Homo sapiens: one gene and its partners. The protein of the gene in region 2 interacts with the protein of the main gene of each other region in a biochemical or structural test. Each region holds a gene or a part of one and is shown on either strand. Other genes may lie near its edges.

Region 1 (2,960 bases), on a different chromosome or scaffold from region 2:
GTGGCTGAGGCCCAGGAGAGCCAACAGCTTTGTACTTGGATTCGAGGCTGTTTCTTTTGCTCTGGCTGTTCTCTGCTGACACTACCTGGAAAGGCACAGGTGTGTGTCTGACCTACATTCCAAGGTGCTGAGAGCCAGCCTTGGATCAGTCAGGAGCTGGGCTGAGTGACTGTACCTGGGCTTCCCAGACCCTTCCTGGGGCATGGGGTTGGGAGACCAGGAGAACCCTGGGTGGAGTAGGTCAGAGTCCCTGTTTCCTACCCCTTTCTGATGCTTTGGGAAATCTACGCCCAGATGATGTTCCATGCAGGAGGCAGCTCTTTCCTGTTGATGGGCCAGATCAGTGGCTCCCTCCTGGGACAGCGCGGGAAGGAGGAGATGGGCTACTTTCCCATGGGGAAGCCGAGGCAGGACCCTTCACACTCCTGCATCTGTACTCATGCAGCACAGACGTGGGGAAGTGCTAGCCCTGCACAGAGGGGGTGGCATCTGGGCAGGAGTCCATCTAGCTTCGTCTAGAACATCCTGAATGAGTGGCTGCCACTCTAGGCCTTGCAGACCCCAATGACAGGGAGGTCATCACCTCCACAGGCTGCCCATTGGAACAGGTGGTGGCTGGGAAGTCCTTTATGCTGAGTTGACCTCTGGGTCTTGGTGGCTATAGCCCTTGGTCAGCATGAGGACTGTCCAGAGCCTGTGCTGGGCGGTCATGGAGCATCATGGGTGGTTTGCTGAGTGCCCTTCCCATCTTTGATCTCATGGACAGGGGGACCCACAGGAGGGGGCTCCACATGTCCTGCTAGATGGGGCTGAAGGAGGCAACTTCTGAGTAGGAGATGAAGAGGCAGGGACTGGGGCTCACAGGTCTGACTCCCACTTGGCCACCACCTGGCACATGAGGGCAGGCTGACTTGATTAGGAGGTGGCTGGCCCCTGGCCTCAGAGAGACCCTCCTCTCAGGCTCTTAGGGTATCCTGGATGATGAAGGCTTTGCAGGTCCAAGCGGCTGTGATCCAGGCACCCTTTGGCCCTGGAGAAGCATGGCTTGGTGTGTCCTCTGGGCAGACCTGCGTAGTGCTTAGAGGTCCAGGGAAGCTGGGCTGAGACCCTGGATCCTGGGAGCTCATGGCCTCAAAGGCAGCAAGTCATGGTCATTGTGATGCAAATGTGGGCAGGGGACACAGGGAATGGGTCATGGGCACAGATGACCCTGTGGCCAGAATGGGGATTTTCCAAGGCTGGGCTGTGAATAGGTGGCCAAATGGGACTGTACCCAAGCCACCCCACCCATCTTCCTGGCCTCAGGTCAGGGCAGGTGTGAGGGGGGATGGCGAGAGCCTGGCTTTCACCCCCTCTGCTTTTGCAGGTACTATGAGAGTTTCACCAACTGCACCGAGATGGAGGCCAATGTCGTGGGCTGCTACTGGCCCAACCCCCTGGCCCAGGGCTTCATCACCGGCATCCACAGGCAGTTCTTCTCCAACTGCACCGTGGACAGGGTCCACTTGGAGGACCCCCCAGACGAGGTTCTCATCCCGCTGATCGTTATACCCGTCGTTCTGACTGTCGCCATGGCTGGCCTGGTGGTGTGGCGCAGCAAACGCACCGACACGCTGCTGTGAGGGTCCCGGTGAGATGGAGTGGGTCACACCTGGCAAGCTGGAAGAAAGTTCCCTGGGGATGGGAGAGCGGGTGGGTGCTGCCAATCTCCAGCTACTGTGGCCACACCCCACCTGGTCATGGGCAGACCCCTCCCTTCCTGGGCTGACCTGCTCCCTCGAGGCCAGCCTGCTCCCTGGCTGAGGCTCAGGCTATCCGCCCAAGCTCTTTGCTCATTCTAGGGCCAGTGGAGGAAAATGTGATAAGGCCAGAGCTTGTGTGCTGGGCACAGAAATCACCTGCTGCATCCTGTGCTCCGCAGGCTGGGCCGGAGCCTCTGCCCGCAGGTTTCTATGCTGTTTCTTAGCACAGAATCCAGCCTAGCCTTAGCCGCAGTCTAGGCCCTGCTTGGACTAGGACTCCTTGCTTGACCCCATCTCTGGTTCCTGCCCTGGCTCCTGCACCAGCCCCAGCTCCTGCCTACATCCAGGCAGAAAGATAGGCAGGGGCTCTTGGAAGACGTTCCGTGCTGTGACCTCCGAGCCCTCCTGGTGGGAAGACAGCTGGAAAGGCTGGGAGGAGAAGGGAGGGGCTGGGGGTTCCCAGGAGCCATGCGTGGCCTGCAGAGTCCATTCCATCATGATGCTGTGCCCGCTATGGGCTGTGTCCATGACCAGAGGCTGGAGTGGGGGTGTGTTAGAGCCCCTCACCGGGACTTGCTGTGCGGATGGGGCCTGGGCCTCCTTCCTACAGGGGCTCCTCTGTGGGTGAGGGGCCCTCTGGAATGGCATCCCATGAGCTTGTGGCCTCTATCTGCTACCATCTGTGTTTTATCTGAGTAAAGTTACCTTACTTCTGGAATTTCCTGTTTTGTTTCATGTTATTCAGAGAGACGGTGCATCTCTTGGGACTGATGAGTCCCCTGTACATATTGTACAGATAGGGAACAACTGAGGTTCTGGAATCCCAGAATGTCAGCGCTTAGGGGGCTCAGAGAGTGTTACAATAGGAGAGGGGCCTGACAGGAGGAGGGACTTGCCTAGCTACTCGCAGCCCCTTGGGCACTTCCCATCCCTGACCCATTGGTTTGAGGATGACAGGGAAGATTTCTCTCTCTTCTGTTTTCCCTTTGCAGCTGCCTTGGGCTTGCTAGGACCCCTGCCTGGGTTTTCTGGGGACCGAGAGGCCCTGGTCAGGTCTGGCTGGAGGCAGATGCTGGTCCTGGGGGGTCCCTAGAGCAGGTGGAGGGGCTTTATCTCCAGGCCTCTGGCCAGGCCCTTGTCCAGGCTCCAGTTCTGTGGACCTGTGTCTTTTGCATGTGGGCTGTTGGATCCAGGATCTTCTTGCTGGATCCCAGGACC
Region 2 (3,500 bases):
CATAAGAACTTTCCAAAGTCCCCTGGGGGAAGCCACTGGGACCAGCTAAGGCCTCTGCTACTGGTGGCTTCCAGCCTCCTCTGCCAGAGCCCCCAGGCTCCCTTTAGAGATGCCACATGCTTTTCAGAAATATCTCCTGGGTGCTGAGTGCTGGTTGATGATAATAGCAGCATTAAAAGGCGCATTTTCGAGGTCATTAAAGCTGACTGTAATCAGCTTCTTTGTTACAAACACCTCATTTCACACCCAAGTGCTCAGCTGGAAGGCAGGAGCGAGGTGCACATTCCGGGCCCCACTGGAGTCTGATAGGAAGGCAAGGGTGTGCGTGAGGACCCCGGGAAGGCTCGCTCTGCAGGAGCTCAGGGAGCAGAAGCTGGCAAATGTGGCCTCCCTGAGGCTGGTGGGTGTGGCTTACCTCCTTGCAGTTCTCCGAGTTTGAGAAGTGGATGAGGTCGTCGTTGTACATCTCCTGGGTGTTGATGATGTCGCTGTATTCCTTCTGGCTCAAGTCTTCGGGGTTGATGCCATTGGCTCGCAGGAACTCCTGGTAGGCCACGCTGAAGGCCTGGCCGATAGACTGGGCGATGAGCTGGGCCTGTGCAGAGGGCAGGCCAGCTGGAGACAGGCACGTGGCACAGGCTCCCCGCAGCCTCCTCAGCAGGGGGCTGCGGCAGGGCTGGGTGCAGGATGCACCCATAAGCCTTCAAGGGAGCCCTTGCTCGGGCTTAGAAGAACAAGAAAGAAACTGGGGGCCCTCCCTCATCTGATGAAGGCTGTCTCCCACCAGCACTCCACCGTGAGCGAACCCCAGTGTTGCCCTGAACCCCAAAGGGTCTACTCCTGACTGTCCCTGCCTAAGCTGTGGCACGGCCCAGATGCTCCAGGTCAAAGCTGTTTCAAAGAAAGTCTGGGACAACAATGAATTATTTACTACATGTCATATTTTTGTTGCTTTTTTTTTCTTTCGAGATGAGGTCTGGCTCTGTTGCCCAGACTGGAGTGGGAATGTAGGTGAGCACAACCACATCCAGCTAATTAAAAAAAGTTTTCTTGTAGAGATAGGGGTCTTGCCATATTGCCCAGGCTGGTCTCAAACTCCTGGACATAAGTGATCCTCCTGCCTTGGCCTCCCAAACTGTTGGCATTGCAGGTGTGAGCCACTGCACCTGACCCCATCTGTATTTCCTTTCCACTCATCTGATGCCGAAAATGGACTTTCAGTGTGTTTTCCGGGAGCATCGTGCTGCTAGTTGTCTACCCCGCATGTATTTATCGGTAGCAACAGAACCCAGTGCCCACTGGAGGCAGAGGGTGTGCCTGGCTGCTCTTCTAGGGATGTGTGGCTGTGCCAGGCCAGGCCTGCAAGACATGAGACCTGGGACTCCACACAGGCCCCATGAAGCACGTCACTTCTTTCTACTTCCGCTGAGCTGCTTCAGTGGACATCACCGACTCTGACATGGCAAAGGCCTGGACACTGAAACAGCACTCAGGGCCTGGCCGGCCGCCTGCTGGTGCGCAGACAGGAGACAGTGGGAGGTGAGGGCTGTACTGAGCTCCCGGAGCTCGCCAAGCAGGCTGGCAGCTGTGCAGCCCTGGGAGCGCGGCGGGGCTCTTGGCGGCCTTGGTGACGCCTCAGCCCACAGCGGGGCCTCCCGCCAGGCTCTGGGCTGTGTGAGCCCTCCTTATGCGCTGTCCTGCTCCTCACGTGCCTCCCCAACTGCCCTCAAGGGGGTCCTGCACGGGCGCCCCCAGCAAACTCCTACTCAACAGGATCCCAAAACAGGTGAAAACAAGGGCTTTGGCCTCAATTCCCTTCCCACTCTCCACGTGGCAGGATGTAAGAGCAGCAGATGAATGTATGCATTGGGAAAGACAAGCTGGGCCGGATTAGAAGCGCGCAGCAGGCGGCCTGCCCTCCAGCAGGCGTGGAACTGCCCTCCCTGACGGGCCCTAAGCCGTTTCCAGGACTTGCCGGTTCCCACGCCCAGCATCTCTGCCGCGCGCACAGACCCAGCTGGAGGCGCGACGCCCGGGGACCGCCAGATGGCGCCGCCGGGCTGGCCTGCGGAGTTGGCGAGCTGATGGGGCTCGGCAGGAGGGCCGGGGGCAGCGCCCGCGCAGGAGAGGGTCGGGCCTTTGGGAAGAGCGGAGGGCGGCCCCCAGGCCTCTGCTTCTGTCTCCGCCTGACGAGGCCACCTGGCTGGGAAGGACGGCCTGAGAGCCCTGGAGCCCCGGAGGCCCGGCTCCACCACCCACGGCCCTCGGACTCCACTTGGGCTCCCTCGGGCCACCGCCATTCTTCCTCCCCTTGGACGACATCCTCCGCCCCCGCGGAAGCTCCAAGCCCGGGGAGCCGGCTCCGCGGGGCTGCGCCTCCTTCCGGTGTCATCTGGGCCGCTGGTGTGCCGCCAGCCGCCGCCTCCCCGTCACTCCACGCCGGGTACCGGCTGCCTCCTGGGAGGTGTGGGGTTCAGGGGGCTCTCTCTGCGGCTGGCGCTTCAGAGAAGGGGTCGCCCTGCCGGCCCCAACTCGCAGCCAAGCCTGTGGGCGTTCACTGCTGTGAGTCCAGGAGCCCAGCCCAGGCCCCACCTCAGGGCTCAAGCGGCCTCCTGCAAGTGGGCTGTGGGCAGAGCCTGCAGGCGCTGGAGAGGTGGGGAAGAGGAGGCTGCTGTTGCTGGCAGGACCACCCTGCGGCCTCATCTACCCAATACGGCATACCCTGGCTTTAACCCTCCGCATCGGCTGCACCTGGGGGCTCTCAGTGCCCCTTGGAAACTCTCACCAGCTGACTGCCACCCTTCGCCACCGGGCCTGCTCCTGGCCTCATTCCGCCAGTACCTGTGGCCCATCCCCAAGCCAGGTCTCTCACACATCCTCGGCCCTCAGTCACACAGAAATACCCATCCAGGTTTCGAAGGGTCTCCGTGTAGCGGTGGAAGGAATGTGTGAGTGCGCTGTTGAAATGCTCTCTCCCTCCTGTAAATCTGCCATTGCGCCGAAGCACTTCAAGTGGACCCAAGTTCTTAGGAAGAAGATGACTGCGCCAGCCAAAGGTTTGAACCCTGTCTTCAGTTTCCATGCTGTATGTCAGGATCATGACAATATGGGGACCCTTCCCTATTGCCCAGGTCCCTGAGACAGCCTCAAGTCCTTATGTGAAAAAGAACGCCCTGGCCAACTGCCCCTGAAGGATAGATTTTTTTTTTTTTTTGAGACGGAGTTTCACTCTTGTCACCCAGGCTGGAGTGCAATGGCACGATCTCAGCTCACTGCAATCTCCGCCTCCCAGGTTCAAGCAATTCTCCTGCCTCAGCCTCCCACGTAGCTGGGATTACAGGCACGCACCACCAAGCTTGGCTAATTTTTTTGTATCTTTAGTAGAGACTAGGGTTTCGCAATGTTGGCCAGGCTGGTTTTGAACTCCTGACCTCAGGTGATCCACGCACCTCAGCCTCCCAAAAGTGTTGGGATTACAGGCATGAACTACCGTGCCCAGC
Region 3 (3,392 bases), on a different chromosome or scaffold from region 2:
TTCCCGGTGGGTGTCCCTAAGCCAGGGCTCCAGGCCTCTGCACAAATCCTCTTTACACAGGGCTGGCAGGGGCGGGGGCAGGGGTAGGCTGGGAGCAGAGCTTCGAGCTGCACTTGTGACCCTTTCTAGGAGCCACCGGCCAACTCCACTATGGGGTCCAAGGAGGAACTGTAGCTGCCCCCGTGTCACCCCCGCCATCACTGCTGGACAGGAGCCACCCCCTTGGGTACCAGAGGGAGCTGTGCATTGTGAATAAAGAGTGAGCTTGGTTCTGGACTCTGTGTGCCTGGTCCCTCAGCAAGGCTGGCCTGATGCAGCTCTGCCCAGCTGGGGGCTCCAGGGCAGGAAGGTGGAGCACGTTCCTGCTCTAGCCCTGCCAGCCTCTGAGTCACAGGTGATCCCCATGCCTGCTGGAGGCCAGTGTGCCCTCCTTTACCACGGGGGCTGAGGCTGGGAGACCTAGGCCAGGCCCCACCCGCAGAAGACACACCACAGCCAGGGCAGGTTCAAAAACAGTTTTATTTCATTATTATCCAAGTACCTTTGAAAAGATAATTAATTGTACAAGTGTCATCGCATGAAAAACAGACTCGGGCAGCCCCTGCTGGCCTAGCCTGAGAAATGTACATATTTACACGGGCCCTCAGAAAGGAGGACCCAGGACTGCACAGCCGGCGGCTGGAGGCAGGTGCAGTGCTCCGTCGCCGATTCACACAGTGGCAGGCAAGAGACAAGCTGTGTTGAAGGCACTCGGTGGCGCGTACAATTGACAGAGGCCCTGCAGGCCTCTGCATCCGGGCCTGGGCCCCACCCAGACCTGGGTACGTGGGCAAATCCCAGAGGGAAAGTAGATCCCAGCACACGTGCCCAAGGGAGGTGCCGGGGGATGGGGGGGGGTCACCTGAAGCTGGCAGCAGGGACCTCGGCTGCCTCACTTGGGCTGGGCCCTCCAAGTATTGCTATGAGGAGTGGTCCAGGCTGCCTCCTTGGGGGCAGGACAGAAGCTTGTGGACCACTTGGAGGGACCCCCTACCTGCCTCTAGACACGGGTAGACCACAGGGATGGGTGGTACACCCAACACTGTTCCCCATCGGGCTCCTGAGTACGAGGTCATCTGCCTGGCCGTGACACCCGTGCCCGCCAAGGGCCTCGCCTGGCACAGCGGCCAGCCCACCAGCCTATCAGTCCACCTTCTCCACTTTGCCGATGATCTTCTCCTCAAAGACGGGCAGGACGGCCTCGTCCTCTCGAACCTCCTCAAACACCACCCCACAGTCAAACTCGTCGCTCACTTTCTTGAAGTAGTATCTGCAGGACGGAGGTGAGGAGGGCAGTGAGCAGGCAGCACCGCAGATGGGAAGGAGGCCTGTGGCAGGGGACGGCGTGTCCACACCCCATCCCGAGGAGCCTCCTGTCCATGCCCCACGGCCCCCACTGCATGTGCGCCCCCTCCCAGGGCAACAGTGAACAGTGCAATGACCACATGTGGGTGAAGTGGGCAGCCATGGGGGGTGAGTTCACTGCCTGCTGGGAGCACCCCACATCCCCCTGGGAGTACCTGCCCCAGCCTCTCAGGAGTTGCAGGGGGGAAGTGGACGGGTGTGGGGTGTCTGCTTCCCAAGGGCTGAGCCCCGTCATGGAGGTGACCCCAACTGGGGCCCTCCCTCAGCACCACATCTGCAGTCATGGGGTGTTTGCACAGTGGCTTGTGGACGGTGGGAACCACCCGCCAGGCTCTGCCAGGCTCTTGGGGTCAGGCCCCCTCTGCTCACCGCCCAGTGCTCACTCGGGAGCCTCCAAGGCTGGCTGCACGCAGGGCCCTGCAGGGCTGAGTGGCCCAGGGCGAATGAACCTTGGTAGGAGGGGGCTTGGCTTTTCAGTCAGGCAAAAGCACATGAGTCCAGAGCCTGGAGACAAGGTCGGCCTAGGGGAGCCTAACACAAGGTTCAGACCATCGTCGTCTAGGGGTCTGGCCTCTGTTTTCCCACCCCGAAGATGAGGGCCCTGGACGGGGGTCCCTTTGGACCCTCTCAGTCCTGTGGGGCCGAAAGCCTGATGCCACCCTCAGCCTAGGGCTTGGAGAAGTGGCTTTAGTTGCAGATGAGGGACATGAGCTGAAATGGCCGGAAGCCCTTTTTCTTCTTTTTTTTTTTTTGGGCGGGGGTAGAGACAGAGTCTCGCTCTGTCACCCAGGCTGGAGAGCAGTGGCGTGATCTCAGCTCACTGCAACCTCTGCCTCCCGAGTTCAAGCAATTCTGCCTCAGCCTCCCAAGTAGCACACCTGGCTAATTTCTTTAGTATTTTTAGTAGAGACGGGGTTTCACCATGTTGCCCAGGCTGGTCTCGAACTGCTGAGCTGAGGCAATCCGCCCACCTCAGCCTCCCAAAGTGCCAGGATTAGGACGTGAGCCACTGTGCCCGGCTGGAAACCCTCTTTTTCATACCGTTGGGCACCCACATACTCGTGCGGGGAGGGGGCACCCCAGCCCTCACACTCACCTGTAGCTGCCCTTTTTGGTCAGCAGCTCCTTGAACTGGCCCAGGGTGACAGCGCGGCCCCTCACCAGGGTGCGGTAGGGGATGGGTTCCCCGCAGAAGTAGTACGCCACAACGATGCTGTCACACGGCTGGGCACTCCCGCCGCCCACCTTCCTCTGCGATCTTGTCCTGGGGAAAGAGATGCAGCGGTGGTACCTGGTTTTGGACTGAGGTCCCACAGGGTCCCTCCTGCTGGCCTCAGGCTGCCAGTGTAAGGCGGGGCAGGCCTGCAGGGGTGAGCAGCACCCCATTCAAACACCTGGGGCCCGCAGCCCCCGCACAGCATCTCAATCTGGGATCTAGTCCGCTAGCAGTGGAGTCGGCTCCGCTCACTGGGAGCACGAAGGTCTCCCTGCTGCCTCACAGCCCCACCCTCGACTGGCCAGGGCCTGGCTGCCAGGTGCACTGCAGCTCCCACCTCTAGGATGGCAGGGCAGGCTGCAGGGCTCCTATCTCAGGAAGACCTACGGCCCCCAAACCTTAAAAACATCTGAAGGGCAGGGATTGGACAAACAGAACTGTGCACGATTTCTGGATAAGCCTGACCCCGCAGCGAAGTTTGTCGGAGGACTGGGGCGGGGGTGGCCAGCAGGCCCTTCAGAGGGGGCAGGGCTGGCACCGTCTCCTGCCCAGGCTGAGCCGGGCCCTCCTCTGACAGGTGCTGTGCTTCCACAGCCGTGCCGGGATGACGGGCGGGGCCTGGTTGCTCTCGCACCCCCCACTCGGCTACCCCGCCGCCACCTGTCCTTCAAGTGACTCCAGAAGCTGCCCCTGGCCCACTGGGGTTCAGCCCTTGGGCCTCCTCCTGGCTGGGTGCACCAGAGGCTTCCAGAGCCAACACCAGGGCAGGAAG
Region 4 (4,045 bases), on a different chromosome or scaffold from region 2:
GAGGTTTCTGTCTTGCAGAGAGACTATTGGTGAAGGCCGGAGTCTATTTTAAGCAACTCCAAATCCACTGGGGTGTGAGGCGGGCCCCGGGTCCTGTCTTTCCTCTGCAGGGATGCCGCCCAGCACTGTGGCCTTCCTGGGGGTGGGCCCTGGGGATGGCTCATTTGTTAACCCAGGGGAGGCTCTTGAATTTGCAAAGCAGTTATCTGTCCTCTTATTTGTAAATGGGTAGCAAAGCCAACTCAAATACACAGATGTATATTTAGGGAGGGCTCTAAACAAAAGTTTTCTTCTGAGGGCTGAATCAACTACTTTACCACAAATTAGTTACACAAGAGGCTACTTCACTGGAGGAGCTTCCCTTCGCTGGAAAACCAAAACAAAACAAAACCCTTTAAGTACATTTTTCCTTTCAGTGTATCACAGCATCCTGAATTTCAGGGTAAACACTTTTTTATGTATTTCTCTTTTGCTTTTATAAAAAAAAAAAAAGAAGAAGAAGAAAGAAAAACACAACCAAGAAAAGCACCACATCTTAGCTCCGGGCGCCCCTGTGCCCTTCCCTCCAGCCCTGTTCACACGCAGGTGGGCGACTGGGCAGGGATCTCATATTTCCCGTGGTGAGTTTTCTGGGGATGCTGGGCTTTTTTGTAAATCCCACCGCTGGTGATCACGCTGGCCGGTTTTCTCCGGCTCTTCTTCTTTAACCTACGGCTGCACACCTGCTGCCAGGACTGCAGAGTCTTGGAGGTCCAAATCCACATCCCGCTGGTGATCCCCACCACCAGCAGCATAAAGATCTTCACCATGAAGATCTCCACGGCGGGGATGGAGGCGGCCATCAGGCAGTCCAGCGTTTTAGTCTGGTTGTTCATTTTGCACTTGTGCTGCGCCGCCAGGATCTTCCAGTAATCCATGTTGAGGCGTTCGTAAAAGTAGCAGGCGATCACACAGGTGGCCGGCACGGTGTACAGCACAGAGAAGAGCCCGATACGCACCATGAGCTTCTCCAGCTTGTCCGTGTTCTCGCCGCCCGTCTTCATCACCCTCCGGATGTGGAACAGGGCCACGAAGCCCGAGAGGATGAAGGACGTGCCGATGACCAGGTAGCAGGCCAGGGGAATGAGCACGAAGCCGGTGAGCGCGTTGACGTCCATGCTGCCCACGTAGCAGACCCCGGTGAGCTCGTCCCCCGCCACCCTGCGCATGACCAGGATCAGGATGGTCTTCACCGCCGGGATGGCCCAGGCTGCCAGGTGGAAGTAGCTGCTGTTGGCTTCGATGGCCTCGTGGCCCCACTTCTTGCCGGCGGCCAGGAACCAGGTGAGCGTGAGGACCACCCACCACAGCGAGCTGGCCATGCCGAAGTAGTAGAGGACCAGGAAGACCAGCGTGCAGCCGGTGCTCTCCAGTCCCTCCTGGATGACATAGAGCTGGCCGCTGTCCCGGTCGCAGGCGATGCTCTCGGCGCCGGCGAAGAGGCGGATGAGGTAGCCCACGGAGTAGACGCAGTAGCACATGGAGAGGAAGATGATGGGGCGCTCGGGGTAGCGGAAGCGGGCCGGGTCGATGAGGAAGGTGAGCACGGTGAAGGCGCTGGAGAAGAAGCACAGCACCGCCCAGATGGCCAGCCAGACCACTGCGAAGCGCTTGTCCTCGCGGCTCCAGTACACGTCCACGCCGGGCGTGCAGAGCGGCGCGCACGACGCGCTCTTCTCCACGTGGTGGAACTTGCCCGGGTTGTCGCAGCCGCCGCGCCCGGGGCCCCCGTCCTTCAGCGGGTGCTCCTGCGCGCTGTGGGGCCGCTGCGGCCGGAACAGCGGCGGGAACAGGCCCGAGCCCCGGGTGGGCTCGTCCGAGCCGTTGTTGGGCGCCTCCATGCACAGGTAGTTGGGGTCGTTCTTGTTGGGGAGTTTCCGGCAGTCCAGGGAGTCGGGCCACTTGAAGTTGAACTGCTCCATAATCGGGGAGCACTTGAGCCGGGCCTGCTCGCACATGACCCGGCAGGCGGGGATGGGGGTAGAGACCTGCTCGGTGCACATCGGCGCGTACAGCGAGCACAGGAAGAAGCGGAGGTGGCCGTGGCAGCCGTACTCCACCAGCGGCGCGAACTCGTGCAACTGGATGGCTGCCTCGCGCTGGTTCTCGTGGCCCATCAGGTTGGGCATACGAGTCATGTTGTAGCCGATGTCCTTGCACATCGGGATCTCGATGGGCTGGCATTTGCCGTCGCCCGGGCGCTCCATGTCCATGGAGCTGATGGCGGCGCACGAGCCCATCACCTGCAGGACCAGCCACAGGCGGGGGCCCGGGCGCTGCATGCTGGCGTTGGACGTGTCCTCGCGGGGAGCTCCGCGCCCCTCAGCGCCGCCGCTCCCGGGCACGGGCTGCTGCTGGCCCCGGCTCTCCACCCCTGCTCGGGCCCCCGCCCATGCCCGCCCGGCCTGGCCCGAGCGCTGCGCACAGCGCCCCCGGCTCGGCTCTCCGCGCCCGGCGTCCGCCGAGTTGGGGGCCGCGGCGGAGAGCAGCAAAGTTTGCAAACAATACCGGGAAGCGAGGGAAGCCCCCGGAGCTCCCGGCGCAGCGGCCCGGCGCGAGCTCCAACTCACGGCCGCGGCAAACTTCGGCCTCTTCTTGGAGCGCCCAGGTGGCGCGTCTGGAGCGGGCTGGCGGCGCGGGCACACCGAGGCCGGCCCAGCTCGCGGCGCCCCCACAGCCCGGGCGGCTCCTCCCTCCCTGCGCCGGCCTCGGCCGGGACCAGCCGGCAGCTGTTTCGAGGTTTGCGTCCCGGGATGAGAAGACTCGCAAAAAGGCAAAGGGGGGCAGAAAAGCCGAGCGCTGACAGGCCCCGCCCCCGGGCCGCGCGCCCCGCCCCGCCGCTGCTTTGCATGAGAAAGCGCAGCGGCCCGGGGCAGCCTCCTCCCCGCCGCCCCGCCGCGGGCTCCCGGGCCCCGCGGGGGCCGATCCCCCCCGGCCTGCAGCCCAGCCTGCGGGGGGCGCAGCGCCTAGTCCCGCCCGCGTCGCCCGCCAGCCCCGGGACAGCCCGCCTGGCGCGCGGGGCTCTGCGCGCTGCGACCCTCCCCGGCAGTCCCGCCCGCCTCTCCTCGCCCTCTCTCTGCCTGGCCTCCAACTTTGCCTCTCGCTATCCTCTCCGCCGGCGCCCCCTTTCCCGGCGGTCCCCGGGATGGTCCCCGGCACCCCGAGGACGCCGAGGTTACGGGAAGTTCGGGGACTGGCGGGAGAAGGGGTTTGGGGGTGGTCCGCGGCGAGGGGCGCGGGGTGCATCTTCTCTTCCTTTTATGGTGAGTCCCGGGCGGAGGGCGCTTTCAAAGGGAGGTGGGATTTGCGTTTTATAGCCTGGGCCATAAAGTAGGCCCTTGCTTGTAAACCTGCCCGCATCTTCCTGAGGCTGGGGAGGTGCTACCAGCCCCGGGCTCCGGGCTCCGAGGAGGGATTTTCTTTGAAATTTCAAAGAGACGAGCTAAGGGGAGGGGGAGGGGCTCGAGAATCCGGATTTTAGGGCCGCTCATCCGAGGTCTCCTCTAAGAAGGCGGGAAGGGGGAGGGGCGGGAAGCGTCCCGGGACTTTGAACACCGCCTCCCACCCCGCGGGAAGTGCGGGCTTGGTTTGTACCGCGGTGACCCCCGCCCCCTCCGAAGCCGCAGAGCCGGGGCCTCGCGCCAGCAGGGCTGGAGATGCCTTCTTGGCGGCTGAGTTTATTTATTATAGGAAGTCATTCGCTCGTGGGGTATTTATGTGATTTGGCGAGTGATGTGCCCGGCCAGCGCCCTCCTTGGCTGCAGCCCCGCAGGAGGACCCGGAGTAGGGTGGGATGGAGTGGGTCGTGGGAGGAGCGCGTCAGCGCCTGCCCGGGGACCCCCAGCTCCCGCGAGGACACGGAGGCGCGCACGCCGCTCGGTTTTCCTGGAAAGTGGAGAAGGAGCGTCCTGGGCAGGTCCTCTGAGCTCATCCCCCCTCGGATTGGGGCGGGTCTGTGACGGGGTCACTTAGGACACGACGTCCCCCCGCCATTCCCTTCCCCCGC

What was found. The genes of interacting proteins can lie anywhere in the genome.
Region 1: the proteins of APBA2 (region 2) and RAMP3 interact in a test that uses a peptide from one of them, tested with the Homo sapiens proteins (one large-scale study listed by IntAct).
Region 3: the proteins of APBA2 (region 2) and AXIN1 interact in a test that uses a peptide from one of them, tested with the Homo sapiens proteins (one large-scale study listed by IntAct).
Region 4: the proteins of APBA2 (region 2) and FZD10 interact in a test that uses a peptide from one of them, tested with the Homo sapiens proteins (one large-scale study listed by IntAct).

The regions. Positions count from the first base shown.
Region 1 is NC_000007.14:45,181,791-45,184,750, forward strand, and holds the end of RAMP3 (receptor activity-modifying protein 3 precursor), read left to right. Parts: intron 1-1,366; coding exon 1,367-1,622; 3' UTR 1,623-2,460; downstream 2,461-2,960. UniProt on the Homo sapiens protein: Accessory protein that interacts with and modulates the function of G-protein coupled receptors including calcitonin gene-related peptide type 1 receptor (CALCRL), calcitonin receptor (CALCR) and G-protein coupled estrogen receptor 1 (GPER1).
Region 2 is NC_000015.10:29,102,474-29,105,973, reverse strand, and holds part of APBA2 (amyloid-beta A4 precursor protein-binding family A member 2), read right to left. Parts: intron 596-3,500; coding exon 416-595; intron 1-415. UniProt on the Homo sapiens protein: Putative function in synaptic vesicle exocytosis by binding to STXBP1, an essential component of the synaptic vesicle exocytotic machinery. May modulate processing of the amyloid-beta precursor protein (APP) and hence formation of APP-beta.
Region 3 is NC_000016.10:286,940-290,331, forward strand, and holds the end of AXIN1 (axin-1), read right to left. Parts: intron 2,669-3,392; coding exon 2,501-2,668; intron 1,310-2,500; coding exon 1,183-1,309; 3' UTR 501-1,182; downstream 1-500. Other genes in the region: PDIA2 (protein disulfide-isomerase A2 precursor), read left to right, coding at 1-6, 130-174. UniProt on the Homo sapiens protein: Component of the beta-catenin destruction complex required for regulating CTNNB1 levels through phosphorylation and ubiquitination, and modulating Wnt-signaling.
Region 4 is NC_000012.12:130,161,219-130,165,263, reverse strand, and holds the start of FZD10 (frizzled-10 precursor), read right to left. Parts: upstream 2,801-4,045; 5' UTR 2,322-2,800; coding exon 576-2,321; 3' UTR 1-575. UniProt on the Homo sapiens protein: Receptor for Wnt proteins. Functions in the canonical Wnt/beta-catenin signaling pathway.